Linked DNA regions of Homo sapiens: region 1 is linked to region 2. Evidence: fine-mapped expression QTL. Tissue or cell type: lung. Region 2 holds a variant in brackets; the other region holds the start of a gene. Each region is shown on its reference strand, or each on the opposite one.

Region 1 (16,272 bases), not on the chromosome of region 2:
ATCACTGAAGAATATATTAGGTTCAAATATGTCTTTGTTTTACTTTTTCTTATTTCTTATTGAAATGGAAATAGAAAAAAAATTATTTTAGTATCAGGGTAATACCAACCTTGTATGATGAATTTAGAAGTATTTTCTCCTCCTCTTATTTTTGGGAATAGTTCGAGTAGGATTGGGGTTAGTTCTTTAAATGTTTGGTAAAATTCAGTAGTGAAGCCATTGGGTCCCAGGCTTTTCTTTGCTGGGAAAATTTTTATTACAGCCTCAATCTCATTGCTTGCTATTTGTCAGTTCAGGTTTTGGATTTCCTCATAATTCATCTTGGTAAGTTATATGTGTCTAGGAATTTGTCCATTTTTTCTATAATTTCCAATTTTTGGCATACAGTTGATCATAGTAGCCTCTAATGATCCTTTGAATTTCTGCAGTATTGGCTGTAAAGTCTTCTTTCTCACTTCTATTTTATTTGGTTTATCTTTCTTAGTCTGGCTAAAGGATTTTTTATTTTGTTTACTTTTCAAAAAACCAATTTCTCGGCCGGGCGTGGTGGCTCACGCCTGTAATCCCAGCACTTTGGGAGGCCGAGGTGGACAGATCACGAGGTCAGGAGTTCGAGACCAGCCTGACCAACATGGCAAAGCCCCGTCTGTATTAAAAATACAAAAATTAGCCGGGCATGGTGGTGGGTGCCTGTAATCCCAGCTACTTGGGAGGCTGAGGCAGGAGAATTGCTTGAACCCAGGAGGCAGAGGTTGCAGTGAACAGAGATCCTGCCATTGCACTCCAGCCTGGGTGATAAGAGCAAGACCCCATTTCAAAAAAAACAAACAAAAAACAAACAAACAAAAAAAATCATTTTGTTGAACACATTTGTATTGTTTTCTTTGTTTCAGTTTCATTTATTTCTGCTCTAATCTTTATTATTTTATTTTCCTTTTTTTTTTTTTTTTTTTGAGACAGAGTCTTGTTCTGTTGCCCAGGCTAGAGTGCAGTGGCGTGATCTTGGCTCACTGCAACCTCCACCTCCCGGGTTCAAGCAATTCTCCTGTCTCAGCCTCCTGAGTAGCTGGGACTACAGGTGCCTGCCACTACGTCTGGCTAATTTTTATATTTTTAGTAGAGATGGAATTTCACCTTATTGGTCAGGCTGGTCTCGAACTCCTGACCTCCGGTGATCCACCTGCCTCAGCCTCCCAAAGTGTTGGGACTGCAGGCGTGAGCTACTGCGCCCAGCTATTTATTTTCTTCTACTCACTTTGGGTTTGGTTTGCTCTAGCATCTCTAATTCTTTAAGATGCATTATTAGGTTGTTTATTTAAAGTTTTTTTTTTTACTTTTGTAATGTAGGCACTTATAGCTATAAACATTCTTCTTAGTACTTATTTTTCTGTATCCCACAGATTTTGGCATGCTGTGTTTCTATTATCATTTGTTTCAAAAAACTTTTCTTTTCTTTTTTTTTTTTTTGAGACAGAGTCTTGCTCCATCATCCAGGCTGGAGTGCAGCGGCGCAGTCTCGGCTCACTGCCACCTCCACCTTCTTGGGTTCAAGCAATTCCTCAGCCTCATGAGTAGCTAGGACTACAGGCGCCCGCCACCATGCCCGACTAATTTTTGTATTTTTAGTAGAGACATGGTTTCACCTTGTTGATCAGGCTGGTCTCGAACTCCTGACCTCAGGTGATCCACCTGCCTTGGCCTCCCAAAGTGCTGGGATTACAGGCATGAGCCAATGCGCCTGGCCTCAAAAAACTTTTCAATTTCTTTCTTTTTTTTTTTTCTCTTTGAGATGGAGTCTCACTCTGTCTCCCAAGCTGGAGTGCAATGGCGCAATCTCCACTCACTGCAACCTCCACCTCCTGGGTTTAAGCAATTCTCCTGCCTCAGCCTCCTGAGTAGCTGGGATTACAGGTGTGTGCCACCATGCCCGGCTAATTTTTGTATTTTTAGTAGAGACAGGGTTTCATCATGTCGGTCAGGCTGGTCTTGAACTCCTGACCTCGTGATCCGCCTGGCTCCACCTCCCAAAGTGCTGGGATTACAGTCGTGAGCCATCATGCCCAGCCCAACTTCTCAATTTCTTAATTGACCCACTGGTCATTCAGAAGACGACTGTTTAATTTCCATGTGTTTGTAGCATTTTGAAAGTCCACTTGTTACTGATTTCTACTTTTATTGCCTTGTGGTCAGAGAAGGTACTTGATATTATTTCAATTTAAAAAAGTTTCAAGACATATTTTATGGCCTAACATATAGTATTTCTTTGAGAATGATCCATGTGCTGAGAAGAATAGGTATTCTGAAGCTGTTGGATGAAATGTTCTATAAATATCTATTAGGTCCATTTGTTCTATAGTGCAGATTAAGTCCATTTCTGTCTGGAAGGCCTGTTCAATGCTGAAAGTGGGGTGTTGTCATCTTCAGCTATCACTGTGTCAGACTCTATCTGTCTCTTTAGCTCTAATAATATTTACTTTTATATCTGGGTGCTCCAGTGTTGAGTGTATATATATTTACAAAGATTATGTCCTCTTGCTGAATTGATCCCTTTAGCATTATATATAATGACTTTGTCTCTTTTCACAGTTTTTCTCTTGAAATCTATTTTTCTGATATACATGTAGTTATTCCTGCTATTTCGTCGTTTCCAGTGGCATGAAATATCTTTTTCCATCCTTTTATTTTAATCTATGTGTGTCTTTATAGGTGAAGGGTGTTTCTTGTATGCAATAGAGCATTGGGTCTTTATTTTTATTCATTCAGCAACTCTGTGTGTTTTGATTGGAGACTTTAGTCCATTTATATTCAATGTTTTATTAATAAGTAAGGATTTACTGCTGCCATGTTGTTTGGTGGTCTTCTCTTCCTTCTTTCCTTCCTTCCTGTCTTCCTTATTGTGAAGGTGATTTTCTCTGGTTGTATATTTTAATTTCTTTTTAAAAAATTTTTTGGTATCTGTTGTAGGTTTTTGAATTTAGTTTACCATGAAGCTTCCATGGTAAACTATATCTTATAACCCATTATTTTAAACTGATGACAACACTGATCCCATAAACAAATAACAAACAAGAGAAAAACTAATAAAAACATTACACTTTAACTATGTCACCCAGCTTTTAAATTTTTTGTTTCTATGTATATCTTATTGTACTGTCTATGTCTTGAAAACTTGTTGGAATTGTTTTTGATAGGTTCATATTTTAGTCTTTCTACTCAAGATATGAGTTTACACATCACAGTTACATTGCTACTATATTGTTTTTTTTTTCTGTGTAGTTACTATTACCAGTGAGTTTCGTGCCTTCAGATGATTTCTTGTTGCTCATTAACATCCTTTTAGATTGCAGAACTCCCTTTAACATTTCTTGTAAGACAAGTCTGGTGTTGACAAAAATCTTTCAGCTTTTGTTCATCCAGAAGAGTTTTTATTTCTCTTTCATGTTTGAAGGATACTTTCAGCAAATACACTATTCTAGGATAAAAGTTTTTTCCTTCAGCACTTTAAATCCATCATGCCACTCTCTCCTGGCCTATAAGGTTTATACTGGGAAGTCTTCTACCAGGCATATTGGAGCTCCTTTGTGTGTTGTTTCTGTTCTTTTGCTGCTTTTAGGATCCTTTCTTTACCCTTGACCTTTGGTAATTTGATTACTAAATGTCTTGAGGTAGTCTTCTTTGGGTTAAATCTGCTTGGTATTCTACGGCCTTCTTGTACTTGAATATTGATATCTTTCTCTTGGAAAGATAATCCTTCCTAATATCTTTGGGAAATTCTCGATATTATCCCTTTGAATAGACTTTTTTAAAATTATTATTATACTTTAAGTTTTAGGGTACATGGGCACAACGTGCAGGTTTGTTACATATGTATACATGTGCCATGTTGGTGTGCTGCACCCAGTAACTCATCATTTAGCATTAGTTATATCACCTAATGCTATCCCTCCCCCATCCCCCCACCCCACAACAAGCCCCAGTGTGTGATGTTCCCCTTCCTGTGTCCATGTGTTCTCATTGTTCAATTCCCACCTATGAGTGAGAACATGCAGTGTTTGGTTTTTTGTCCTTGTGATAGTTTGCTGAGAATGATGGTTTCCAGCTTCATCCATGTCCCTACAAAGGACATGAACTCATCATTTTTTATGGCTGCATAGTATTCCATGGTGTATATGTGCCACATTTTCTTAATCCAGTCTATCATTGTTGGACATTTGGGTTGGTTCCAAGTTTTTGCTATTGTGAATAGTGCCACAATAAACATACACGTGCATGTGTCTTTATAGCAGCATGATTTATAATCCTTTGGGTATATACCCAGTAATGGGATGGCTGGGTCAAATGGTATTTCTAGTTCTAGATCCCTGAGGAATCGCCACACCAACTTCCACAATGGTTGAACTAGTTTACAGTCCCACCAACAATGTAAAAGTGTTCCTATTTCTCCACATCCTCTCCAGCACCTGTTGTTTCCTGATTTTTTAATGATCGCCATTCTAACTGGTGTCAGATGGTATCTCATTGTGGTTTTGTTTTGCATTTCTCTGATGGCCAGTGATGATGAGCATTTTTTCATGTGTTTTTCGACTGCATAAATATCTTCTTTTGAGAAGTGTCTGCTCATATCCTTTGCCCACTTTTTGATGGGGTTGTTTTTTTTCTTATAAATTTGTTTGAGTTCATTGTAGATTCTGGATATTAGCCCTTTGTCAGATAAGTAGGTTGTAAAAATTTTCTCCCATTCTGTAGGTTGCCTGTTCACTCTGATGGTGGTTTCTTTTGCTGTGCAGAAGTGCTTTAGCTTAATTAGATCCCATTTGTCAATTTTGGCTTTTGTTGCCATTGCTTTTGGTGTTTTAGACATGAAGTCCTTGCCCATGCCTATGTCCTGAATGGTATTACCTAGGTTTTCTTCTAGGGTTTTTATGGTTTTAGGTCTAACATTTAAGTCTTTAATCCATCTTGAATTAATTTTTGTATAAGATGTAAGGAAGGGATCCAGTTTCAGCTTTCTACATATGGCTAGCCAGTTTTCCCAGCACCATTTATTAAATAGGGAATCCTTTCCCCATTGTTTGTTTTTTCAGGTTTGTCAAAGATCAGATAGTTGTAGATATGCGGCATTATTTCTGAGGGCTCTGTTCTGTTCCATTGGTCTATATCTCTGTTTTGGTACCACTACCATGCTGTTTTGGTTACTGCAGCCTTGTAGTATAGTTTGAAGTCAGGTAGCATGATGCCTCCAGCTTTGTTCTTTTGGCTTAGGATTGACTTGGCAATGCGGGCTCTTTTTTGGTTCCATATGAACTTTAAGGTAGTTTTTTCCAATTCTGTGAAGAAAGTCATTGGTAGCTTGATGGGGATGGCATTGAATCTATAAATTACCTTGGGCAGTATGGCCATTTTCACGATATTGATTCTTCCTACCCATGAGCATGGAATGTTCTTCCATTTGTTTGTATCCTCTTTTATTTCATTGAGCAGTGGTTTGTAGCTCTCCTTGAAGAGGTCCTTCACATCCCTTGTAAGTTGGATTCCTAGGTATTTTATTCTCTTTGAAGCAATTGTGAATGGGAGTTCACTCATGATTTGGCTTTCTGTTTGTCTGTTATTGGTGCATAAGAATGCTTGTGATTTTTGCACATTGATTTTGTATCCTGAGACTTTGTTGAAGTTGCTTATCAGCTTAAGGAGATTTTGGGCTGAGACGATGGGGTTTTCTAGATATGCAATCATGTCATCTGCAAACAGGGACAATTTGACTTCCTCTTTTCCTGATTGAATGCCCTTTATTTCCTTCTCCTGCCTGATTGCCCTGGCCAGAACTTCCAACACTATGTTGAATAGGAGTGGTGAGAGAGGGCATCCCTGTCTTGTGCCAGTTTTCAAAGGGAGTGCTTCCAGTTTTTGTCCATTCAGTATGATATTGGCTGTGGGTTTGTCATAGATAGCTCTTATTATTTTGAGATACGTTACCATCAATATCTAATTTATTGAGAGTTTTTAGCATGAAGGGTTGTTGAATTCTGTCAAAGGCCTTTTCTGCATCCATTGAGATAATCCTGTGGTTTTTGTCTTTGGTTCTGTTTATATGCTGGATTACGTTTATTGATTTTCGTATGTTGAACCACCCTTGCACCCCTGGGATGAAGCCCACTTGATCATGGTGGATAAGCTTTTTGATGTGTTGCTGGATTCGGTTTGCCAGTATTTTATTGAGGATTTTTGCATCAATGTTAATCAAGGATATTGGTCTAAAATTCTCTTTTTTTGTTGCATCTCTGCCAGGCTTTGGTATCAGGATGATGCTGGCCTCATAAAATGAGTTAGGGAGGATTCCCTCTTTTTCTATTGATTGGAATAGTTTCAGAAGGAATGGCACCAGCTCCTCCTTGTACCTCTGGTAGAATTCGGCTGTGAATCCATCTGGTCCTGGACTTTTTTTGGTTGGTAAGCTATTAATTATTGCCTCAATTTCAGAGCCTGGTCTATTCAGAGATTCAACTTCTTCCTGGTTTAGTCTTGGGAGAGTGTATGTGTCGAGGAATTTGTCCATTTCTTCTAGATTTTCTAGTTTATTTGCGTAGAGGTGTTTATAGTATTCTCTGATGGTAGTTTGTATTTCTGTGGGATGGGTGCTGTTATCCCCTTTGTCTTTTTTTATTGCATCTATTTGATTCTTCTCTCTTTTCTTCTTTATTAGTCGTGCTAGTGGTCTATCAATTTTGTTGATCTTTTCAAAAAACCAGCTCCTGGATTCATTGATTTTTTGAAGGGTTTTTTGTGTCTCTATTTCCTTCAGTTCTGCTCTGATCTTAGTTATTTCTTGCCTTCTGCTAGCTTTTGAATGTGTTTGCTCTTGCTTCTCTAGTTCTTTTAATTGGATGTTAGGGTGTCAATTTTAGATCTTTCCTGCTTTCTCTGGTGGGCATTTAGTGCTATAAATTTCCCTCTACACACTGCTTTGGACGTGTCCCAGGATTGTGGTATGTTGTGTCTTTGTTATCGTTGGTTTCAAAGAACATCTTTATTTCTGCCTTCATTTCGTTATGTACCTAGTAGTCATTCAGGAGCAGGTTGTTCAGTTTCCATGTAGTTAAGTGGTTTTGAATGAGTTTCTTAATCCTGAGTTCTAGTTTGATTGCACTGTGGTCTGAGAGACAGTTTGTTATAATTTCTGTTCTTTTACATTTGCGGAGGAGTGCTTTACTTCCAACTATGTGGTCAATTTTGGAATAGGTGTAGTGTGGTGCTGAAAAAAAATGTATATTCTGTTGATTTGGGGTGGAGAGTTCTGTAGATGTCTATTAGGTCCGCTTGGTGCAGAGCTGAGTTCAATTCCTCGATATCCTTGTTAACTTTCTGTCTTGTTGATCCGTCTAATGTTGACAGTGGGGTGTTAAAGTCTCCCATTATTATTGTGTGGGAGTTTAAGTCTCTTTGTAGGTCACTAAGGACTCGCTTTATGAATCTGGGTGCTCCCGTATTGGGTGCATATATATTTAGGATAGTTAGTTCTTCTTGTTGAATTGATCCCTTTACCATTATGTAATGGCCTTCTTTGTCTCTTTTGATCTTTGTTGGTTTAAAGTCTGTTTTATCCGAGAGTAGTATTGCAACCCCTGCCTTTTTTTGTTTTCCATTTGCTTGGTAGATCTTCCTCCATCCCTTTATTTTGAGCCTATGTGTGTCTCTGCATGTGAGATGGGTTTCCTGAATACAGCACACAGATGGGTCTTGACTGTTTATCCAATTTGCCAGTCTGTGCCTTTTAATTGGAGCATTGAGCCCATTTACATTTAAGGTTAGTATTGTTATGTGTGAATTTGATCCTGTCATTATGATGTTAGCTGGTTATTTTGCTCATTAGTTGATGCAGTTTCTTCCTAGCCTTGATGGTCTTTACAATTTGGCATGTTTTTGCAGTGGCTGGTACCAGTTGTTCCTTTCCATGTTTAGTGCTTCCTTCAGGAGCTCTTTTAGGGCAGGCCTGGTGGTGACAAAATCTCTCAGCATTTGCTTGTCTGTAAAGTATTTTATTTCTCCTTCACTTATGAAGCTTAGTTTGGCTGGATATGAAATTCCGGGTTGAAAATTCTTTTCTTTAAGACTGTTGCCTTCTTTAGAATATTTATTTAGGGTATTGTGACAAAGTCAAAAGGTGATGCAGGACAAAAATCATTATATGCAGGACATGTCCTGTATGTATAGGAATCTTGGAAATTTTATTAGTGATGTCTTTCATGCTACTAACACATTTGAAAAACACCTACTGAGAGCTCGTATGTGTTCCTTGGATGTGTATTTTAACAGTGAATTATCAAGACAGCACAACTTCACTGTTGATTTTTACCATTCTGATATCTTCTTTACAATTGCTCAGCATTTTCAGGAAAAAAGAGTCACATTTTGTTGACAAAGTGTGGTCAAGATCACAACACAACCATATGCTTAACTTCATTCTTTCACTTATACTTTAGTATTCAGGCTCAAACTTTACTGAGATCTTAACTTTGTCCATCTATCACAGATATTTCCTTAGAGCAATTTCTTTCATTATCTTCAAATAACTACGGAATCATTATTAATAGCTGTCAGGATTTTTCCCCCGGGGATAATCTCACCTCCTAACACAGACACCATACTTACAATGACAATGACAGGTTAAATGGTAATTGCACTGTGTTTTGCTGTGATGGAGACATCACTGATTACCCAGGCAGGAAGAGTTTTCTGAAGAAATCTGTCCACTGGTTTCAGGGAGACTCCACATCATCCCTCTTCCTTCTTCCACTCCAAGGCCTTGTTTGGAATATTTTCTCTTCCGTCTCTGACCAAACTGAAGCTCACAAAAGTTACTGTAAAGCTTGAGTGCACACATATTTAAAAAGCAACAAGGTAATAGTTATTAGCTTCTAGCTGTGAGTGTACGCAAAGAGACATTGTGGTGTGGTGTATCTATTTAGTTTTGCAGCTTTGGGGAACATCTGAAATGTCTCAACATTTCTGCGATCGGTGCATACTACACTCCAGGGAATCTAGGTCCAGGCCTTTTAAGAGGACAGAAGTCAGCCGGGCACCATGGCTCACTCCTGTAATCCCAGCACTTTGGGAGGCCGAAGCAGGCAAATCACAAAGTCAGGAGTTCGAGACCAGCCTGGCCAACATGGTGAAATCCCGTACTCTGCTAAAAGTACTAAAATTAGCCTGGCGTGGTGGCGGGCCCCTGTAGTCCCAATTACTTGGGAGGCTGAGGCAGGAGAATCGCTTGAACCCGGGAGGCGGAGGTTGCAGTCAGCCGAGATCGCGCCACTGCACTGCAGCCTGGGAGACAGAGCGAGACTCTGTCTCAAAAAAAAAAAAAAAAAAAAAAAAGAGGACGGAAGTCCTGTCAGCCCTTTGAAACTCGGGTTACTTTTCCCAAACAACTTGGCCCTCCTACTTCGAGTTTTCCCAAGAGCCCAGGCCGAGAATCCCCTGCCTTGAAGGATAGCTCAGTGGGAACCACACTCTACCCACAAACCTATACGTTGCATACCCAATGAGGGCCCAGGAGAGGGGTGTTTCAGTGCCTGCGGGGGGTGCGTGGGCGGGACTTCCGGCTCCTCCTTGTAGCGGACATTTTGTTTCTGTCAGGCTGTCCCTGGCCGGGGTTCTGTAACGCTTGTGTGGGCCGCAGGTGGAGGTGTTGGGAAAGCGCGGAGGAGATGTTGTCCCCAGTGTCCCGAGACGCGTCTGATGCTCTGCAGGGACGGAAGTGCCTGCGTCCCCGATCGAGACGCCTGCCGCTCCCGGCAGCTGTCCGCGCCCACGGTCCTATGGCGGAGCTAACGGACTCCGCGCGGGTGGGTGCTGCGTCCTCCGGGCCCTCAGTCACCCTTTCTCCGACTCCGAATCGTAAAGTGCCTGCAGCCCCTGTGTCCCAGGACAGCGACGCACTCTTGGGGCGGGGTCCTATCTCGGTGTGGGTGGGTGTGGGAGAGTTACGGGCGGAGGGGACGGCGCAGGTAAAGGCTCGGGGGTGCTGCTGACCCCCAAACATTTGGGAGACAGGGTTCTCATCAACACAGAGCAGAGTTTGAGGAACTGTGACTGGAATGGCAGGCTGAGAAGTTGTCGCTTCATTCTGAGGGCGTTGAGATTAACTGAGGGTTTTGAATAGAAGGACGTGATCTTAGCTGGGATTTTAAGTGTCTCGAAATTTGCTCAGGGGAGAACATTAGTTTGGGGTGGGGACTGCGAGGATGGATACGAGGAGACCGGTAAGGAGGCTACTGCAGTGGATTCCAGGAATGCTTTGGTGGTGGATGTACCAAGAGTAATGGCAGGTGAGTGGGTAGAAGTGATCATATTCTGGGTAGGTTTTAAATTTGAAACCAACAGGATTTTCTGCTCCATCATATGCAGCTATGACTGAAAGTAAGGCATGAAAGAGCAAGGTGTTTTTGTTGTTTTTCCATGAACGTTTGGATTTTGGAATGGTGACTTTGAGATGTCTCAGAGTGGAGGCTTCCTCACTTAGGCAACTAGAGAGGAAGGTCTGAAGTTGTGGGGAAGGGGCTGGGCTTAGAATATCTTTGGGGTGAAGGGAGCGGTCTGGAGTAGGTCAAGGCCAGGAGGTCAGATTTAAGTGGGGCAGTCTTAAGTATGTTATTTCATATCTCTGGGGTAAGAGATGAGAAGGCTGGGACTGCAGGGCAGGGAAGAGGGAGTGGGCATTCTTGAGACTCCCCCCAGAAGAGAAGGGTCCTGCCATTTGAAAGGGTTCTTTTCAGTGTTTGCAGGAGGAGAGAGCTGTAGGGTATGAGGAGTTTGGCCTGGGATGGCAACGATGGGTGGTGTGCTATTGCTACTATCTGATTATCTCACCCTCATTTTGTGTGTTTTCTTTTAGTTTTAGTTTATTTATTTTTTTTATTTTTTTTGAGACGAAGTCTCACTCTGTCGCCCAGGGTGGGATGCAGTGGCTTATTGCAACCTCTACCTCCCGGGTTCAAGAGATTCTCCCGCCTCAGCCTCCCAAGTAGTTGAGATTACAGGTGCCCACAACCACCCCTGGCTAATTTTAGTATTTATAGTAGAGACGGGGGTGGGGAGGTGGGAGGGGTGGGGTGGGGTGGGGAGGTGGGAGGGGTGGGGTGGGGGCGGGGGAGTGGGGGGGACGTTCACCGTGTTGGCCCAGGTGGTCTTGAACTCCCGACCTCAACTGATCCACCGGCCCCAGCCTTCCAAAGTGTTTGGATTACAGTTGTGAGCCACTGCACTTGGCTTTGGTTTTATTTTATTTATTTATTTTTTTTTTGGAGACGAGTCTCGCTCTGTCACCCAGGCTGGAGTGCAATGGTGCGATCTTGGCTCACTGCAGCTTCTGCCTCCCAGATTCAAGTGATTCTCCTGCCTCAGTTTTCCCAGTAGCTGGGATTACAGGCATGCATCACCATGCCCAGCTAATTTTTGTATTTTATTAGATAGAGTTTCACCATGTTGGCCAGGCTGGTCTCAAACTCGTGACCTCAGTTGATCCACTCCCTTCGGCCTCCCAAAGTGCTGGGATTACAAGAGTGAGCCACCATGCCTTGGCCAGGTTTTGTTTTGTTTTGTTTTTTTGAGATGGAGTCTTGCTCTTGTCACCCAGGCTGGAGTGCAGTGGCGCGATCTCGGCTCACTGCAACCTGTCTCCTGGGTTCAAGCAGTTCTCCTACCTCAGCCTCCCGAGTAGCTGGGATTACAGGTGCCCACCACCACACCCCGCTAATTTTTCCATTTTTAGTAGAGACGGGGTTTCACCACGTTTCCTAGGCTGGAGTGCAGTGGCACAATCTCGGCTCACCGCAACCTCTGCCTTCTGGGTTCAAGCAATTCTCTTGTCTGCCTCCTGAGTAGCTGGAATTACAGGCACCCGCCACCACGCCCAGCTAATTTGTTTGTATTTTTGGTAGAGACGGGGTTTCACGATGTTGGCCAGGCTGGTCTCGAACTCCTGCCCTCAGGAGATCCACCCGCCTCGGCCTCCCAAAGTGCTGGGATTACAGGTGTGAGTCATCATGCTTGGCTGAGACCCCATTTCAAAAAAAAAAAAAAGTTCACTACTTCTCCCAGTCTTGCCTAGTGTAGTAGAAGGATCTCACGAATCCATCTGGCCAAAGATTTAAGGTGCTTCTCTAATCTTTGTGTTTGTCCAGAATGCTGTCTCTGTTTTTGGTAACTCTCTGGAACTTAGGATGTACTACATTCTGTCATTATCCTAAGGCCAGAAGGTAGGAACCAGACTCTTTTGATGTAGCTGGAATGTGTTGAGGGTGTTGAATGTGTTCCAGTTTCTTCCGTTTTCATGATGCAGCTGAGCATGGGTATTTATCTCCTGCTGCCTGCATTAAGTTAGTTAGAGATCTGTGTCAAATGCCTAAAGTCGGCCAGGCGCAGTGGCTCACACCTGTAATCCCAGCACTTTGGGAGGCCGAGGCGGGTGGATCACGAGGTCAGGAGATCAAGACCATCCTGGCTAACATGGTGAAACCTTGTCTCTACTGAAAATACAAAAAATTAGCCGGGCATGGTGGTGGGCGCCTGTAGTCCCGGCTACTCGGGAGGCTGAGGCAGGAGAATGGTGTGAACCTGGGAGATGGAGCTTGCAGTGAGCCAAGATCGTGCCACTGCACTCCAGCCTGGGCAACAGTGCAAGAATCTGTCTAAAAAAAAAAAAAAAAATTGTTATGTGTCTTCTGACTGCCTCACTGACCAGCTGATCCCCATCCTTCTCCCTCTCTTTAAGCGTTCCTATTCCCTGACACACAGCAATATTGAAATCAGGTCAGTTAATAACCCTACAGTGGCCTCTAAGAGTTCAAGTTAAAGGAGTAGTTACACATCTCTCACTTTAAATCAGGGGTGTCCAATCTTTTGGCTTCCCTGGGCCTCCAGCACTAGGGGTTGCATTTCAACATGAGATTTGTAGGGGATACACATCCAATCCATATCAAACAGTGGTACAATGTGCAACAAAGAAATGGAAGAGGGTTGAGGATACCTGAGATCTGCATGTGGTTTGAGGTGCCTGTGATTGAAAAAAGGAACAGGGCCAGATTGGGAGGCTTTCAGAGCAACAATAGGGCTTTCCTTGGCAATGGGGCCATTGATGGTTTGGAGCAAGATGGGATACTGATTGTTGGCAAGCACTTTTTTTTTTTTTTTTTGAGATGGAGTCTCACTCTGTCGCCAGACTGGAGTGTAGTAGCATGATCTCAGCTCACTGCAACCTCTGCCTCCCAGGTTCAAGCAGTTCTCCTTCCTCAGCCTCCCAAGTAGCTGGGACTACAGGCACACACCACCATGCCCAGCTAATTTTTGTATTTTTTTTTTTTTTTTTTTTAGTAGAGACGGGGTTTCACCATGTTGGCCAGGATAGTCTCGCTCTCTTGACCTCGTGATCTGCCTTCGGCAAGCACTCTTAATGCTATGTGTAGAGTGACATTTGGGGAGTCCAGGGAGATGGGGTGGGCCAGTAGGGTGGGGGGGAAGCTGGAGATGTGAGGGAGACATAGTCCAGAGTGATGTGTATGAGAGGAGGGAGTGTGAGCTGACGGTCCTGTGACTTGGGGCTTAACTGAGAAAAATGAGCCTAGGTTCATACCTGGGATTTGTGATCTTGGGTACCCCAGGGGAGTTGGCTGGCTCAGAGTGTAAATGGCATTTATCTGTCAGCCTGTCTGTTGTTGTGGTGGGCTGACACAGTGATTGCTGGGGTGATCAGGAGAGAGTGAGGATCAGTGGTACTAGTGCCTGGTATCTCTGACTTGGGAACCTGGGAGGTTAGTTAGCAGGATGTTGTGGGTAGGTAGACTGGGGATCATTGGTCAAGAGACTTTTTATGGTCCTTCCTGTCCCTTTTGTTGCAGGGCTGTGTGGTCTTTGAGGATGTGTTTGTATACTTCTCTCGGGAAGAATGGGAGCTTCTTGATGATGCTCAGAGACTTTTGTACCATGATGTGATGCTGGAGAACTTTGCACTTTTAGCCTCACTGGGTAAGGTCCTCATGCTTTTCTGCCTTTACCACTCTGTTCTTCCTATGGTGGGATCATGAGCACCGCTTCCTTCACCAGTTTCCTGGAGTAGGTGCTCAAGATGCCAGGGCTAAGCTGTATGGAGTGTCCTCCCTACTTGCTGAGTAGTCCTGAAGCCGTGCAGCCAAGGGTTTGGGGTCATGAGACTTGTGGTTTGCCCAGTGGATCTCACTAGGTCTGTTCGCTTTCTGTACTGGTGACTCTGTCCAAAATTATGATGCCTCTGTGCCCAAGGTTCTGTCCCTTTCTCCAGGTGACATTTTCTTTTCTTTTTTTTTTTGAGTCAGGGTCTGGCTCTGTTGCCCAAGCTGGAGTGCAGTGGCATGATCTCAGCTCATTGCAACCTCTACCTCCCAGGCTCAAGCCATCCTCTCATCTCAGCCTCCTGAATAGTTGGGACTACAGACACACACCACCACGCCCAGCTAATTTTTCTGTAGAGATGTGGTTTTGCCATGTTGCCCAGGCTGGTCTTGAACTCCTGAGCTCAAGTAATACCCTGACTTGACTTCTGAAAGTGTTAGATTACAGGTGTGAGCCACTGCGCCCAGCTCAGGTGACATCTTCTAGGGCCTGACCTTGTCAGGAGTTATAGGCACTTACATAGTCACTTATAGGGACCTTTGGGTTATTCCTGCACAACTCCTCCCAGGTTATTTTTCTTACCTGAAGTCCATCATAGGGTGGTTTGCCATGGGCCAGTGCTGGCTGCTCACCTGTTCTGACTTTCCCTTAGGAATTGCATTTTCCAGATCACGTGCAGTCATGAAACTAGAGCGAGGAGAAGAGCCCTGGGTGTATGACCAGGTGGATATGACTTCAGCCACAGAAAGAGAGGCCCAGAGGGGACTTAGACCTGGTGAGTGGACATCGGGGAAGGGCACGATGTCAAAGCTGGGTTCAAAACTGGCAACATTAACTGTTCACATCAGTGTTTGTTTCCAGGGCCAGTGGCCACACAGCGTTTCTATCTGTCCTTTCCTGTTCTTGACACGAAGATATATCATTTCTAGTTTGTTAGCCCCTTGCCACCCTCACCTCTGGCCTTCACCTTACACCCATGTTTCACCACTTCTCTGTCTACATTTTTTGGCAGTATTGACCTGCAATTAATGTTCACAAGATGTGCATATATTCTTAAATAGTCTTTGAACACCAGCTGCTCACTTGTAGTTGGATTTTCCTGGGACTGGATACATTTTTCATAGCACTCACGAGTCACTAACAGTCAAGGCCCTACTGGAAGCCATTTGTTTGGTTCCATTCTTATATCCTGGCCCTTCATTGGCACTCCCCCATGGTATGACCTCCAGAGGCTCACTACCTCAAAGCCATTCCTTCCTCACTCTGACCATGCCTCTCATTCTGAAAACAGTTTCATGAACTTATTCCTGCATGTGTCAAATGCACATATACAATGAGGTTGCCCCTTCCCACCCGTAAATATGCATTTAATCAGCATTTGTGTGTTCTTCAGGTTGTTGGCATGGAGTGGAGGATGAAGAGGTATCTTCTGAGCAGAGCATTTTTGTAGCAGGAGTGTCAGAGGTCAGGACTCTCATGGCAGAGCTGGAGTCTCACCCATGTGACATATGTGGCCCAATATTGAAAGATACCTTACACCTGGCTAAATACCATGGGGGAAAAGCCAGGCAGAAACCATACTTGTGTGGGGCATGTGGAAAGCAATTCTGGTTCAGTACAGACTTTGACCAGCACCAGAACCAGCCCAATGGAGGGAAACTTTTCCCAAGGAAGGAGGGCAGAGACTCTGTGAAAAGCTGCAGAGTCCATGTGCCAGAGAAGACCCTCACATGTGGGAAAGGTAGGAGAGACTTTTCAGCCACATCTGGCCTTCTTCAGCATCAGGCCTCTCTCAGCAGCATGAAGCCCCACAAGAGCACTAAGCTTGTGAGTGGCTTTCTCATGGGACAGAGGTATCACAGGTGTGGTGAATGTGGGAAAGCCTTCACCCGCAAAGACACACTTGCTCGGCATCAGAGAATCCACACTGGAGAAAGGCCTTATGAGTGTAACGAATGTGGGAAATTCTTCAGCCAAAGCTATGACCTCTTTAAACACCAGACAGTTCACACTGGAGAAAGGCCATACGAGTGCAGCGAATGTGGGAAATTCTTTAGACAAATCTCCGGCCTGATTGAGCACAGGCGAGTTCACACGGGTGAAAGACTCTATCAGTGTGGCAAATGTGGG
Region 2 (16,272 bases):
CAAATTATCTTTCAAAGTTCACAATTAACGGAGGCCCAGCTTTGCAGAGAAGACCAGACCGTGGACCCTAACATAACAACAGGTAACAAGTACTAAGCACTCATAAGCTAGTAGTGTTCACAACTTTACATGCTGCTCTCCCTCTAAGCCCTAGAAAGTATGTTAATATCCTCATTTTACGAATAGGAAAACAGGCCGAAAGAGATCAAGTAACTTGCCAAAGTAACAAAGCTAGTACTAGCAGATTGAGGATTTGAACGCTGGCGATCTAACTCCATGGCTAACACTAACTGTTGCAGGGACACCGCCTCCGCGTGGAAACAGGGCACTCTTCACTGCTTTCGTTCATTTGGGGGAAAATCTGGAGGATGAGTGTTCCAGGTTAAATCACAAGTCCTCTTCCCCACGTAAGGTCTACTCAGGGCAATTTACTTGAATTCGACCGGGGGCGCAATGTCCCAGTGCTCAGGGCTAAACAAACCACAGATAAAACAGCTCTCTCTCTCTCTCACCTGTTGTCTCAGTCTCCCAAGCTCTCTCTGCATATCCTCCACAAGGGTCACCGCTTCTTCGCCGCTCTCCGGATGCAGCTCCTGCACCCTGCTCTGGATCTCCTGGGGCAGGATGGTCAGGAACTGCTCTAACACCAGCAGCTCCAAGATCTGCTCCTTCGTGCGCATCTCAGGCCGAAGCCACCCATGGCAAAGCTCTTGGAGCCGGCTGAGGGCTTCCCGGGGACCAGCTGCCTCTTGGAAGCGGAACCGTCTGAAGCGCAAGTGGGAGGCCTCGGGGCTCGGTCCTGGGTCAGGTGGGGGCAGCTCCTGGCTCCAGGCGCAGTCCTCCTCCAGCTTCACTATCAGGAGCCCTTCCCGTTCCTGGGAGCCCGGGCCCGACGCCATCGTCAGGTCTCCAGAGCGCCTTAGCCCGAAACCAGCCGTGCCCGCCTACGAAGGCGCCCTGAACCCATGTAAGGTTGGACGGCGCCAGCAGGAGCCCGGGGCCGGGGGCTCCCAGTCCAGGCCGAGGAGCCCCGCTCCAGCCCAGGCGCGGCCGGCTCCGGCGCCTAGGCCTCAGTCGGTCCCAGGCGCCGCCACGCCGGCCCCGTGGCCCATCTGCGCCAGGACTTCCCCGAGGCAGGAACCGAGCGCCACGCTTCTCACCCTATATAGAGGACCCACGCAAGACTCAGACCTCTGCTCCCACGCCGGAAATCTCAGCGCGCAAGTTAGGCGTCCACAAGCCCACGGCGCCTGCTCGTGACCAATTTCCGGGTCACGTTTTGCGAACTCCAGCGCCCATTAGGTCAGGTTTCTCCACACACTCACCGCCTACCAATGAGAAGGGAAGATTGGCCTACGGGGACTGGATGAGCGAGGGACCAATTGGAGACGAGAGGCGGGGCCACGGGGCGCGCCCTGAAATTCTGGGAGTGACTGGGGGCAGGGCAGCTGGATCCAAGCGAAGAAAACAAGCCTGAGGTCGTTGTGACTGGCGGGCAACCTGGGTTAGAATTACTCCGGAGCGCTTGGGAAAACGCAGATCCCAGGGCCACGCGCTCTCCAGTGCGTCAGTGTCGGGGTGAGACCCGGAAATCTGAATTGTTAATCAGCTTCCCCGGATGAATCCTTTCCCAAGCCAGGCCCCACCCGCTTCGGCTACTCTGGGCTGGCTGAAGATGGTCCCATTGGCCCCTGCGGCCTCGTCGGCTCCGGAAGCCAGGGGCTCCTCGGCATGTCGGGGAGGCCAGGGAGCTAGCCGCCCGCCCAGTCAGTGGCGCCGCGTGGCCTGCTGCGCGGGGCCTGCTGGGAGATGCAGTCCGCGGCGCGGCCTCGCGACTGCGCGTGCGCCCTGGGCGAGCGCCCAAGAGCCCGGCGGTTCTGAAACCCCGAGTCCCGCGGAGAACCCTGCTGGGCTTTGGGCTCGCTTCTGCGGCTGGACGTCCCAGAGGAGCGCTCGGGTCTGGGTTCGCGGCACCTGCTTCCGATTTTAGACCGAATTTTAAATCTGCCCGAGATGTGCAGCGCCTGCAGTTCATTCTCCAAGTTTCAGTCTCTTACCCAGCCCTGCAAGGGCGGGATCTGCCTCCAGCTCCGCCGTGGACTGTGATAGTTGGGGGCGAGTGGCAGGAGGGCCGCAGGGCCGATTCCCTATTGGGCGCGGTTGTGGGCTTTGTGTCGGTGAGCGGGGCTGCCCAGTTGTGAGGCGGCCCAGGTCCTCCGGGCCATGAGATCCGCAAATGGAAGCGTCCTGGGATAGAATGTGACAATCAGTTACCGTGTATTGAGCGTTTATATGCAGATCGATCCTGAAAACACGTTAGTATGAAGCAGATGCTATTAGCAGCCCCTTCCTACAGGTGGTGGCACTGAAGTCATTTACTTGGGTCACACAGCTAGTCTGTCGTCAAAGGTGAGGCTACCATGATAGTAGAGGGTAATATGGGATTAAAGGGGTTTGTGATGACTAAGTGAAAAGAGTACTGATATTTTAGTTTTTTTCTTTTTTTTTTTTTTCCGAGACGGAGTTTCGCTCTTGTTGCCCAGGCTGGAGTGCAATGGCGCAGTCTCGGCTCACTGAAACCTCCCCCTCCCGGGTTCAAGCGATTCTCCTGCCTCAGCCTCCTGAGTAGCCGGGATTACAAGCGCCCACCACCACGCCCGGCTAATTTTTGTATTTTTAGTAGAGACGGGGTTTCACCATGTTGGCCAGGCTGGTCTCAAATTCCTCACCTCGAGTGATCTGCCCGCCTTAGCCTCCCACTGTGCTGGGATTACAGGCGTGAGCCACCACGCCTGGCCTTTTTTAAAAATTTTATTCCAGGGAAGATGACAGATCCACAGGCTGTCGTGGCAGATGCAGAGCCAGCGACCCCATAGCACTCAAGGTCCAGTTTGGAAAGCCTTGTTTGCTCCCTAGGACCATTCTGGTGGTTTTAGGCATTCCTGTTCTTTTGTTTTTGAGATAGGGTCTTGCTCTGTCGCCCAGGCTGAAGTGCAATGGCACGATCATTGGACATTCCTATTTCAAGAGACATAGATTCTAGACTCATAACCAATTGCAGAAGACTCTAGCCTCAAAACCACTTTTCTCTGACATTTACTATGTAATCTCAGGCAACTTATGTAATCTCACTAAACCCCAAACTTCAGTTTCCTCATTTGTTTTGAGGGACTACTATACGCACCTCACCTCATATCACTGGGTTAGGATGAAATGAGCGGAGCTACACAGGATGCTTAGAACAGTACCTGGCACATAGTATGAATCCGATAAATAGTAGCTGTTACGCATGCACAGCAAGTTCCTGAATGTGTGCCTTATCTCAAAAAAGAAAAGCCACTCAGATTATTATTGCAGAATCTGTGGCATGGGAATGTTTGCAGAACTACACATACCTTGAGATAGGGAGAATGAGGGATTAATCATTTTCTATCTAAGGTCCTTTTGATTTTATGCTATTTATAGGTACTTAAAAGTAGATGAATTTAGGCTAGGTGCGCTGGCTCACGCCTGTAATCCCAGCACTTTGGGAAGCCAAGATAGGCGGATCACGAGGTCAGGAGATCGAGATCATCTCCTGGTTAACACGGTGAAACCTCGTCTCTACTAAAAATACAAAAAAATTAGCCGGGCATGGTGGCGCACGCCCGTATTTCCAGCTACTGGGGAGGCTAAGGCAGGAGAATCACTTGAACCTGGGAGGCAGAGGTTGCAGTGAACTGAGATTGTGCCACTGCACTCCAGCCTGGGCGACAGCAAGACTGCATCTCAAAAAATAGCAATAATAATTTAATTTTTTAAAAAAAGATGAACTTTCAGGGTTATTCAAAATCAGTGGTGGTAGTAGTCCTCCTCCAATTCTTTGTGATCTGCCAGTATGTGGAAAACAGACTAGCTGGTATTAGACTAGGAGTGGTGTTAACAGGCCAGCAGATTTGTAGGGGTTTTTTGTTGTTTTTTCGAGATGGAGTCTCGCTCTATCGCCCCGGCTGGAGTGCAGTGGTGGGATCTCAGCTCACTGCAACCTCCGCCTCCCAGGTTCAAGCGATTCTCATGCCTCAGCCTCCCGAGTAGCTGGGATTATAGGCACCACGCACCACACCCGGCTAATTTTTGTATTTTTAGTAGAGACAGAGTTTTGCCATGTTGGCCAGGCTGCTCTTGAACTCCTGACCTCAGGTGATCCGCCCACCTTGGCCTCCCAAAGTGCTGGGATTACAGGCGTGAGCCACTGCACCCGGCCAGGGCCAGGGTTCTTAAGCTGCCTCCATGTCTGGAGCAGTGCTATCCAATAGAACTTTCTGTGATGGTAGCCAATGGGCACTTAAAATGGAGTTAGTCTTGCCAAGTATTACCATACTGGCCAATGCAGTTCCAGAGGATCCATGGATGGGTTTGGAGATTTTTGTAAACCTTTTGATACTGTATGCAAAATTGGATGTGTGTGTGTGTGTGTGTGTGTGTGTGTGTGTGTGTGTGTGTGTGTATCTGTATGTTCTAGTAAGTGGGTTCATAGCTTTCATCAAGTTCTAAAAACCGCCAAAAAGACTAAGAACTGCTACTTTAGGGCTTTGGTGAAAAGTAAGTAGTGAAGAGAAGTAAGCGCCTTTGAAACCAGTACAGATTCTACTTTCTTAACACTGTAAGTCCTCAATGTCCTAGATAGGTTGGAAACTGTTATCTTAAGTGAAAGCACATTTTGTTATAAGGTTGATGACAAAAATAAATTAGTTTCATTATATGTCTTTTCCCTTTAAGTCCCAGTTTCCAAGACCCTATCAATGATGTTAAGTGAGGACTTACCGTATTAGTGATGTTAAGTGAGGACTTAACTGTGTTTTCTCATCCTCAGCTGCAGGTGACTTCGTGACTGTTGCAGAGAAAAATAAATTTGAATCTTCGACAAAGAACCCTTACCACTCCTGGTTTTAGGTCTCATGGGTACTAGACTCTGTCTCTGGGACTTCTTTCATTCCCTAACTAGCTCTTACAGATTCCTTTGTACTCAAGGGGCCAGTTATCTGTGCCTGGTTTTCAAAGTGACATTTGGTGAAATCTACAGTGTTAAGACTTTCAAGACTAGGCCACGTACTGTGGCTCACGCCTGTAATCCCAGCACTTTGGGAGGCTGAGGTGGAAGAATCACTTGAGGCCAGGATTTTGAGACCAGCCTGGGCAACATGGCAAGACCTCGTCTCTACAGAAAAAAAATTTTAAAAATTAACTGGTTGTGGTGACATGCAACTGTAGCCCCACCTATTAGGGATGCTGAGGCAGGAGGATTGCTTCAGCCCAGGAGTTTTGAGACCAGCCTGGGCAACATAGCCGTCATTTTAAATCGATGCTTTTCCTGTCTTTCATCTTAGGGTACATTCAGCCTCCGGGAGCTTCTGCCACTCTAAGCCTTTGCTACTTGCCACTCCCCCCAGCTTTGGTCTCTCCCCTCGTTTACTTGACTACAGCATTCCTTTGATCTATGACTTAGGGTTTTCTTTTTTTCTGAGACAGAGCCTTGCTCTGTCGCCCAGGCTGGAGTACAGTGGCGCAGTCAAGGCTCACTGCAGCCTCTGCCCAAGTTCCAGCGATTCTCCTGCCTCAGCCTCCCGGGTAGCTGGGATTACAGGCACACGCCACCATGCCTGGCTAATTTTTGTATTTTTAGTAGAGATGGAGTTTTGCCATGTCGGCCAGGCTGGTCTTGAACTCCTGACCTCAGGTGATCCACCCGCCTCGGCCTCCCAAAGCGCTGGATTTAGGGTTTTCTTTTACCTGTACCACATGCTCTTTGATCCTACTCCTAGCTTTGAAATCCAATCATAAACAAAATAGCAAATTTAAATGGCATTTCATTTGAAATGCATTTTATTTTTATTAATATGGAATATATTACCTTTCCTCATGAAAAGATAAAATGAGACATTTTACGCCACTTATATTTTGATTAAATGTTCTGGAGTTTAAATTTTCCTTTGGACTAACATTAACCAAACTGTCTTACTAATATTGTTTGATAATGTTAATATTTAGACATATTCCTCTATTTGCATATTAGATCACTATTTACCAACCTATTTTTTTTTTCAGACCAGTAAACTGTCAAGATGAGGAGGGAGAGGAAAGAACTTGGAAAGAGGGTGCAACCCAAACTTTTGTCAGTGAGGGGAGGCATGGCAGGACACAGGGGAGACCACACTGGAGACCATTTTACTAATTGTCTGGATTGATGGAAACACTCTTAGATATTTGTTTTGGTTAATATCAAGACAATCTACTTCTAGGCTTCAGCTAAAACAAACATGTAAAGATTGTTTTTGCTGGTTGCCAACCAAACCAGTTCAGATACTAATTCTTATTTGAAAGTCTCTTAACTGAAATTAATCCAGGACATAGTTTAACTACCACATTTACCTCTCTCTTCTCTTGGATTCAATAAGAGAATAGTTCTCAGTTTTAATATAGTCAGAATTTTAGGAAGATTAACTTGATATTTTGGTTCTTAGATAATTTTATTATCAAAATATTCAAAAAATGAGGTAAAACTAAATCAGTGCATTGACTAGCAGAATTAATTCACTCCTCTTCCCAGAGATTGGAGGAGAATAGCTTTGAATTGAGCACAAAAGGATCTTCCCCCTATTTTGTTTTTGTTCTAATGTTTGTTTATTATTTTTCCAGTATGCCTTTCGTACTCCTAGATTTTGTTCTAATGTTGAAAAACTGCCTGTTATGCTGGGCACAGTGGCTCACACCTGTAATCCTAGCACTTTGGGAGGCCGAGGCAAGAGGATTGCTTGAGCCAGGAGTTCAAGACCAGCCTGGGCAACAGAGAGAGCCCTTCTCTCTACAGAGTTTTTTTTTTTAATTATCAGGGCATGGTAGCACATGCCTGTGGTCCCAGCTACTCCAGAGGCTAAGGTGGGAGGATCCCTTGAGCCTGGGAGGTCAAGACTGCAGTGAGTTGAGATTGTGCCACTGCAGTCCAGCCTGGGAGACACTGCAAGACCCTGTCTCAAAAAAAGCCAGCTGCCTGTTAGAGGCTCCAGGTGAAATAATCCTAATTGAGAAGGAAATAAATATGGAGAGGCCATCTGTCCTGGAAATCGGCTTGAACTCAGGAAAAATCAGTGTGACCCAGACTATCATGTTCCCTGTATTTCTTATGACCAGTATATCTAGTCCCAAACCCTGACCTGTACTTCCCACTGGAGCCTAGAGAAGAGCCATGGGTGCAGGAATAGCAGGATTCCAAAGGAAAGAAACAATGACTTGACTCCAGGAGAGGTGAGTGTTCACTGGAAAGAAACGGGAAGAAAGAAAAGAAAAATTCAGCCTTACTTGGAATAAAAGGCTTTGGGATTCTATTTAGCAGTTTCTGTTTTCTCTCTACTACTTTAATACAACTCTTATTTTCCCCCCTCTTTCTCCTTGGACAGGGTGATATCTGCAATTTCTTTTTCTTACAGGTTTTGAGATCAGGAGAGAAAATGCAGATTCTTCAAAGCTGAAGAAATGTCAGACTCTGCATCTATTGTTACTTCAGAGGAGAATAAAATTGAATCATCAATTTTACAAAAAAGACTACAAACATTTAGGAAATCAGTAGAGAAACACCCCAGATTTAGCAAAGCTTGTAGATGATCAGAACCTCTCTATAAGGAGAGAAACCTGAGAACAGAATGGGAAGGCGAACTCAGCTCTTAGCTTTTTCTTAGTGTTTATAAGCAATCAGCTCCCAAATCAGGGTGTTTTAACAACTGGGAAGCCATCCCATATTTTCCAGTTTGGGAGGCTTTTCCTAGCACTTCGGGAGGCATAGGCAGAAGGATCACTTGAGCCCAAGAGCACGGGACCAGCCTGGACAACATAGTGAGATCCCATTTCTACAAAAAAAA[C/AC]AAAAATTAGCCAGGCGTGGTGGCAAGTGCCTGTGGTCCTAGCTGCTTGGGAGGCTGAGGTGGGAGGACTGCATGAGTCCAGGAGATTGAGGCTACAGTGAGCCATAATCGCACCAGTGCATTCCAGCCTGATACCCTAGAAGCTAATACTATGACACTGTGGTTCTGAAAAAAGAAAAGCTTTGTATTGCAAGTCGACTCACAAGGAGACAGGAATATCAAGCTCAAGGCTGTCTCCCCGTGTTGGCTTTAAGGCAGTTATTTTTATTAGAAAAGGTTCAGGCGGTGGATTCTGAGATTAGTAGGTGATTATTAGTGGAAGGAAAGGGGAGATGTGGAAAGTCCTTGGGCTTTCGCAGTTACCTCTTCAAGCTACTTAATGGGTCTCATGCAAATTCAGGGACAGCATGAAACCTGTGTTGAAAATTCAGGCTGTGATGTCAGCAAGCTCATTCTGTGCAGACTCCAGTCAGCGTTATTGGTTCCAACAGATTTCTGCTTGTTCTTCTTTTATCTTATAGGGAGGGAGTTTCAGCATTTCTTCAGCATTTCAGCAAGTTGTTTTTTTTTTTTTTTTTTTTTTTTTTTTTTGAGTAGGAGTTTCGCTGCAACGCCCAGGCTGGAGTGCAATAGCCTGATCTCGGCTCACTGCAACTTCCGATTCCCGGGTTCAAGTGATTTTCCTGCCTCAGCCTCCCAAGCAGCTGGGACTACAGGTGCCCACCAACCTGCCAGGCCTCGAACTCCTGACCTCATGTAATCCACCCACTTCAGTGGGTCAATCCCTCAAAGTGCTGGGATTACAGGTGTGAGCCACTGCACCTGGCCAGCGAGTTGTTTCTTATCTGCCATCCTGCAGACTCAAGAATTTCTGTTAGTTACTGATTTCTTTAACTCTTTGGGGCACAGTTTCAGTAGCCACACATTTTTTAAGGCTCCTAGAAAATTAAAATAGCACAAAAATTGTAGTATATTTTAAATATCTGCATTTAAATAACATTTTCACTCAACACAAGACCACAACTGGATATTTTATTGGTGATAACTTCAAAAATCTAAAACTTAAGACTTTTAATAAAGATGAAACCATACTAAATGGCCCTACTTTGTACTCTTTTCCTTTTTTGTAGAGACAGAGCCTTGCTATGTTGCCCAGGTTTGTCTTGAACTCCTGGGCTCATGCGATCCTCCCACCTTGTCCTCCCAAACTGCTGGGATTAAAGACGTGAGCCACCGCACCTCGCTCCTACTTGGTATTTTATGGTAACTCTTCAGCCATCGCTCCCCAACTAGGACCTCTTTTTAAGAGGAAGGGAGGCTGAAGGTCAGCAGCAAAGGACTAGAGTCCCCTCACCTTGGTCAGTGAATGGGAGGGACACACTTCCACTACCTTGTCTCCTGGGTTTTATTTTTGTTTTAATAATTCTTAACTTTTAAAAACTTCACAAATCTCTAACAGCCAAATCTTCTGGGTTTTAAACATGGTCACAGATTTTTTTTTGCCACTCATCCCATCAAGAAGTGGGGCATCTGTCCCTCTGCCTTGTATCTGGGCAGCTTGTGACTGCTACCAATGAAATACAATGAAATACAGATGTGGTGTGACCTCCAGGGTGAGGTCATAAAAGGCCTTGCAACCTCTATCTTGTTTGCTAGGAGAACTTGCACTTGGAGCTAGTGTAAGAAGTCTGGTTACCCTGAGAGCACCATGCTGGAGTGGCTGCACATAGCTCTCTAGTGGAGAGTCCAGAGGTGCTTTTGCTTCTTGTAAAATAGAAACAAAGTCAAACTAATAGACACTGCCATTGATTAGTTGTGGAAGGTGGTCATATAGGTATTTGTTAGGTTTTGTGTATTTGAACTGAGGCAGAATAGGGTCTGGAGGCAGGGAACTGAAGGCCAGTTCACCTTGACTTCCTAGAACTAAATCGAAAGAAAAACCCCAACTTTCCACGCATAAGTAACAAAAGGACCAGAGGCTACTCCCTTTGCCAATGCCCACCTTTTCTGAGGGGCAGATGGGAAATTGAAGGTACCTCTGACTGGCTGCTTTTTGCAATCAGACGTTTGCACAGGAGTGTAACTTTGTAACTTCACTTCAGCCTCTGATTGGTTGCAACCAATCAGACTGACTGAGGTTGGTTCATTTACATGGGGTGAACACCAAGTGGCCAATGGGAAACCTCTAGGGGGTGTTTAAGCTGCTGCTTGGCCGGCTCCCACACTGTGGCATGTACTTTCAATAAATCTCTGCTTTTGCTGCTTCATTCTTACCTTGCTTTGCTGTGCGTTTTGTCCAGTTCTTTGTTCAAAATGCCAAGAACCTGGACAATTTGCATCAAGACCCTCTACCGGTAACAGAACCGTTTCATTTCAAATAAAGACCAAGGAAAGGGGCATAATTAGCAATGTTATCTCTGGCTGTTGGTTTGAAGACTCTGACTCCAGCCTCAGAAACAAACCTTTTCCAGAAAGGGGAGGAAGATGGTTGTAGGTTCTGCTGCAGGGAAGTGTTCTCCAGCCATTTGAGCCACCTCAGCTGAAGCTCCAGCCACTGTGGAACGAGATGAGTTGTGCCTCTGGGTCTTGCTTGAAATCTGACCACCAAGTTGTGAGCATAATAAAGGGGCTGCTGTTTTACACTATTAAGTTTTGGGGTGTTTTTCATGCAACAATAGATAACCGGAACAATAGGCATACATGAATAAATAAACCTTGTAGAAGATTCAATGAATACAGATGTATACAAACAAAATGAAGGTCTGGGCACAGTGGTTCACACCTGTAATCCCAGCACTTCGGGAGGCCAAGGCGGGGAGGATCACTTGAGGTCAGGAGTTCAAGACCAGCCTGGCCAACATGGTGAAACCCCATCTCTACTAAAACTACCAAAATTAGCTGAGCGTGGTGGCGGGCGCCTGTAATCCCAGCTACTTGGTAGGTTGAGGTAGGAGAATCGCTTGAACCTAGGAAGTGAAGGTTGCAGTGAGCTGAGATCATGCCACTGCACTCCAGCCTGGGCAACAGAGCGAGACTGTCTCAAAAAAAAAAAAAACTGAGGGACTTTTCCATCACCTCCCACCTAATGTCTCCATGCTCTACAGGTTTACCTGGCTGTGCATCCTCCCAGTCTCCTGAGGAACTTCATGTACCTATATGGGCTAATTATATGTATACACCATGCTATACATATTTTCCAGATCTTCTTTTTAAATATTAGCAGTGTGCCTTTGACATCTATCTAGGTCCAGATGAATAGGCCATTGCCACTCTTAACAACTGTAGAGCATGCATACTATGGATATACCACAGCTGTACTGACTGTCTCCCCATTTAGATTGTCTCCAGCTGTTTCCTTTAACAACCAATACTCCAATGAACATCTCAGACGTGCATATTTGGGTACATTGGATATAGTCTTAGAAATGGAATCACTGAAGCAAAAGCCTTGTGCATTTTTTTTTTTTTTTTGAGATATGTTCTCCCTCTGTCACCCAGGCTGGAGTGCAGTGGCATAATCTTGGCTCACTGCATCCTTGACCTCCTGGGCTCAAGCAGTCCTCCCACTTCACCCTTCAGAGTAGCTGGGACCACAGGCATGTGCCACCCAATTTTTTATTTCTTGTAGCAACGAGGTCTCACTTTGTTGGTCAGGCTGGTCTGAAACTCCTGGGCTGAAGTGATCTGCTCACCTCGGCCTCCCAAAGTACTGTGATTACAGGCATGAGCCACCGTGCCTGGCCTAGGCTTGTGCATTTTTAATTTTGAAAACTTGCAGCAAATCACCTTCCAAAACAGCTTCACAGGCCAGGAGCAGTGGCTGACACCTGTAATCCTAGCACTTTGGGAGGCCGAGGCGGGCGGATCACCTAAAGTCAGGGGTTTGACACCAGCCTGGCCAACGCGGTGAAACCCCGTCTCTACTAAAAATACAAAAATTAGCCGGGCATGGTGGCGGGTGCCTGTAATCCCAGCTACTCAGGAGGCTGACGTGGGAGAATCGCTTGAACCTCAGAGGTGGAGGTTGCAGGGAGCCGAGATTGCATCACTGCATTCCAGCCTGGGTAAAAGAGTGAGACTCCATCACAAAAAAAAAAAAAAAAAAAAAAAAGCTTCACAAATTTAACTCGTAACCTGAGGTGTGAAAGTGCTTCTATGTCTGCATGCTCATTAAAGTTGGCTGTGGCAATCATATTAATTTGTGATAATATAGTGGGTGAAAAATTATGTCCCCTCAGCCGGGTGTGGTGGCTTAGGGCCTGTAATCCCAGCACTTTTGGAAGGCCAAGGCAGGAGGACTGCTTGAGCCCAGGAGTTCTAAACCAGCCTGGGTAACATAACAAGACTCTGCCGCTATTTAAAAAAAAATAATATCCCCTTGTTGCCTGTCATGTTTCTGATTACTTGGAGATTGGGCATCTTTTCACGTGGTACTTTGTATTTCTTCTCTGAGTTGCCTTTTTTTTTTTTTTTTTTGAGATGGAGTCTCAGTCTATTGCCCAGGCTGTAGTGCGTGTCAGGATCTCAGCTCACTGCAATCTCCGCCTCCTGGGTTCAAGCAATTCTTCTGCCTCAGCCTCGCGAGTAGCTGAGACTACAGGCACGTGCCACCATGCCTGGCTAATTTTTTGTAGTCTGTAGAGACAGGGTTTCACTGTGTTAGCCAGGATGGTCTCGATCTCCTGACCTCGTGATCCACCCGCCTCAGCCTCCCAAAGTGCTGGGATTACAGGTGTGAGCCACCACGCCCGGCCGTGAGTTGCCTATTTAAGCCTTTGAGCATTAAAAAAATTATAGTGCTTTAACATTCCAGGTATTATCGTATGTACAAATATTTTCTCTGTCACCTTTTTTATTTTTATTTTTTAAGACAGGGTTTTGCTCCATCACCCAGACTGGAGTGCAGTGGTGCAATCACAGCTCACTGCAGCCTTGACCTCCCAGGCTCAAGCGATCTTTCCAACTTAGCCTCTTGAGTAGCTGGGACCACAGGCGCACACCACCATGGCCAGTTAATTTTGTGAGGGAGGGTAGAGATGGGGTCTGCCTACATTGTGGAGACTCAAACCCCTAGGCTCAAGCAATCCTCCCACCTTGGCCTCCCAAAGTGCAGGGATTACAGGCATGAGCCACTGCATCCAGCCTTTTAACCATATTCATGGCTGTTTTTGTCATACTGAAGTTTTCTAATTTTTCTATTTACCTGAATTTTTTAACTTTTTCAGTTTTTTTATCTTGGTTAGAAAGATCTGTCAGCCCCCGCCCGGCCAGCCGCCCCGTCCGGGAGGGAGGTGGGGGGTCAGCCCCTGCCCGGCCAGCCGCCCCGTCCGGGAGAGAGGTGGGGGGTCAGCCCCTGCCCGGCCAGCCGCCCCGTCCGGGAGGGAGGTGGGGGGTGCCTCCGCCCGCCCAACCGCCCCGTCCGGGTGGTGGGGGGCCGCCTTTGCCCGGCCGCCCCTTCTGGGAAGTGAGGAGCCCCTTTGCCCAGCCACCACCCCGTCTGGGAGGGGTACCCAACAGCTCATTGAGAAGGGGCCATGATGACAATGGCGGTTTTGTGGAATAGAAAAGGGGGAAAGGTGGGGAAAAGATTGAGAAATCAGATGGTTGCTGTGTCTGTGTAGAAAAAAGTAGACATGGGAGACTTTTCATTTTGTTCTGTACTAAGAAAAATTCTTCTGCCTTGGGATACTGTTGATCTGTGACCTTACCCCCAACCCTGTGCTCTCTGAAACATGTGCTGTGTCCACTCAGGGTTAAATGGATTAAGGGCAGTGCAAGATGTGCTTTGTTAAACAGATGCTTGAAGGCAGCATGCTCGTTAAGAGTCATCACCACTCCCTAATCTCAAGTACCCAAGGACACAAACACTGCAGAAGGCCGCAGGGTCCTCTGCCTAGGAAAACCAGAGACCTTTGTTCACTTGTTTGTCTGCTGACCTTCCCTCCACTGTTGTCCTATGGCCCTGCCAAGTCCCCCTCTGCGAGAAACACCCAAGAATGATCAATAAAAAAATAAAAAATAAAAAAAAAGAAAGATCTTCCTCACTGCGAAATTTAAACAAATTTACAGATATTACACTTCGTGTTTCTTTAAATCATCTGGGCCAGGTGCGGTGGCTCATGGTTGTAATCCCAGCATTTTGGGAGGCCGAGGCGGGTGGATCACTCGAGGTCAGGAGTTCGAGACCAGTCTGGGCAACATGGTGAAAACCCATCTCCACTAAAAATACAAAAAATTAGCCGGGTGTGGTGGCACATGCCTGTAATCCCAGCTACTTGGGAGGCTGAGGCAGGAGAATCACTTGAACCTGGGAGGCAGAGGTTGCAATGAGCCCAGATCACACCATTGCACTCCAGCCTGGGAAACAAGAGCGACATTCCGTCTCAAAAAAAAAAAAAAATATATATATATATATATATATATATATATATATATATGGAGTTTATTTTTTATATATGTCAGGCAGAAGTCTATGTTTTCCAGCTCAACTGTCAACAGTCCCAAAACTATTTATAAGTTGGGCCACCTTTTCCCCTTGGGTTTTAAATACCATCTTTTGCATATACACACGTCTTACGGAATCTTGTTTCCATTTACCTTATATCCATTCTTGTAAAAACATATTACTGTTCTAATTTACTGTATTTTCACAGCTTGTTGTTATATCTGTTACAATACATCTCACACCACTGTATTTTTTTCACAATTTTTTTGGCTATGAATTTTAAAAATCAACTTGTCAAAGCCCATTCTTAAACATCTTGCAGCCTGGTGCGGTGGCTGATGCCTGTAATCCCAGCACTTTGGGAGGGTGAGGTGGGCAGAACAGCCTGGCCAACATGGCGAAACCTCATCTCTACTAAAAATACAAAAATTAGCTGGGCATGGTGGGGCGCACCTGTAATCCCAGCTACTCGGGAGGCTGAGGCAGGAGAATCACTTGAACCTGGGAGGCAGAGGTTGCAGTGACCTGAGATCACGCCACTGCACTCCAGCCTGGGCAACAGTGAGACCCAGTCTGAAAAAAAAAAGAAAGTCTTGTTATGGCTGGGCATGGTGGCTCACACTTGTAATGCCAGCATTTTGAGAGGCCAAGGCAGGAAGATCGCATGAGCTTAGAAGTTTGAGACCAGCTCAGGCAACATAGCAAGATCACATTTTTTTAAAAATGTAAAAAAAAAATCTCGTTACAATTTCAATTGGGTTTGCTTATAATTTGTTGATTAATTTAGGAATGCATGATATATTTGTAATATTAACTCTTCCATCCACGACTGTGGTGTATTTCTTCAATGATCTGGGACTTTTAAAATTCTGTAATCCTATATACTTTTCTTCTTATAGGTCTTGCAAATTTCTTATCATGTCTGGTTATGGGTTTTGCTACTATTGTGCATGGGATTCTTTGTTTCAAATTTTGTTTCCTAATTACTCAGATTAATTTTCCAACACCTACCACCAACTCTTTCAAGGCAGCATGTAGGGGTTAGTGGTAGCAACTCTTCTCTTGGAGCCAGTCTTAGTTGTCTGTATAAAGAAACCATTCCATGTTCCAGGACAGACTTTGCTGCCGTTGGGATGAATGGAGAGCAACATCCCGGTTGTCCGTCATGGGTGACAGCCTTCCTTCAGGTGACTTTGGCCTGTGATTTTCCATCCTGTTTGGGCTTCAAGTTATCCGAAAGGAATCATATTGAAATGGGTGTTTCTGAATTTCCGTGTCCTCATGTTTTTAGTTCTTCACAGCCTGCTTTAAAAATTATTCATTCTTTTTTTTTTCTTTTTGACAGAGTCTCGCTCTGTTGCCCAGGCTGGAGTGCAATGGTGCGATCTCGGCTCACTGCAACCTCCACCTCCCGGCTTCAATCGATCCTCCCGCCTCAGCCTACTTAGTAGCTGGGGTTACAGGCGCACGCTACCATGCCCGGCTAATTTTTGTATTTTTAGTAGAAATGGAGTTTCACCATGTTGGTCAGGCTGGTCTTGAACTCCTGATCTCGTGATCCACCTGCCTCGGCCTCTCAAAGTGCTGGGATTAAAGGCGTGAGCCACCGCGCCCAGCCACATTATTCATTCTTGCTTCTGCCTCTCCCTTTATCTTTCAGATATTAGGTGTAGTCAATAGCACTTAACTTTCTTCCAAATACAGTTAGGTGGACAGAATTCTAGTCCCAGCTCTGCACTGATGTGTAGAACTCAAGTCAGTCAGTTCCCCTGGAAGCCTGTGTCCTCCTCTGTAACATGACGGGGTTGGCTTGATGACTGCTAAGCTACCAGATGCCAAGAGACAGCAAAGCCAAAGGAAAGGCCTTGAGCTCTGCAGACACAGACCTTGAGACTGAATGTTGGCTACCTGACTCTTTGTAGTTGTGTAGCCTTG

Evidence for each region. PIP is the estimated chance that this variant, and not a neighbour inherited with it, causes the effect.
Region 1: ZNF671 starts here. The variant in region 2 is the best candidate, but not a certain one, in a credible set for the expression of ZNF671 in lung (TOPMed, PIP 0.57).

What each region holds. Positions count from the first base shown.
Region 1 is chr19:57,720,961-57,737,232 of GRCh38, reverse strand. It overlaps ZNF671 (zinc finger protein 671), which reads left to right and starts at 9,609. Exons shown (of 4, transcript NM_024833.3): 1 at 9,609-9,842; 2 at 13,893-14,019; 3 at 14,795-14,917; 4 at 15,536-16,272. The coding sequence starts at 9,705. RefSeq lists enhancers at 9,263-9,312, 9,453-9,892, 9,410-9,910 and a silencer at 9,231-9,456.
Region 2 is chr16:3,268,446-3,284,717 of GRCh38, reverse strand. ZNF263 (zinc finger protein 263) reads right to left here and starts at 1,227. Exons shown (of 6, transcript NM_005741.5): 1 at 513-1,227. The coding sequence starts at 899. RefSeq lists enhancers at 235-738, 1,449-1,638, 1,749-2,254 and a silencer at 919-1,078. The variant C/AC (reference allele first, on the strand shown) is at 7,893.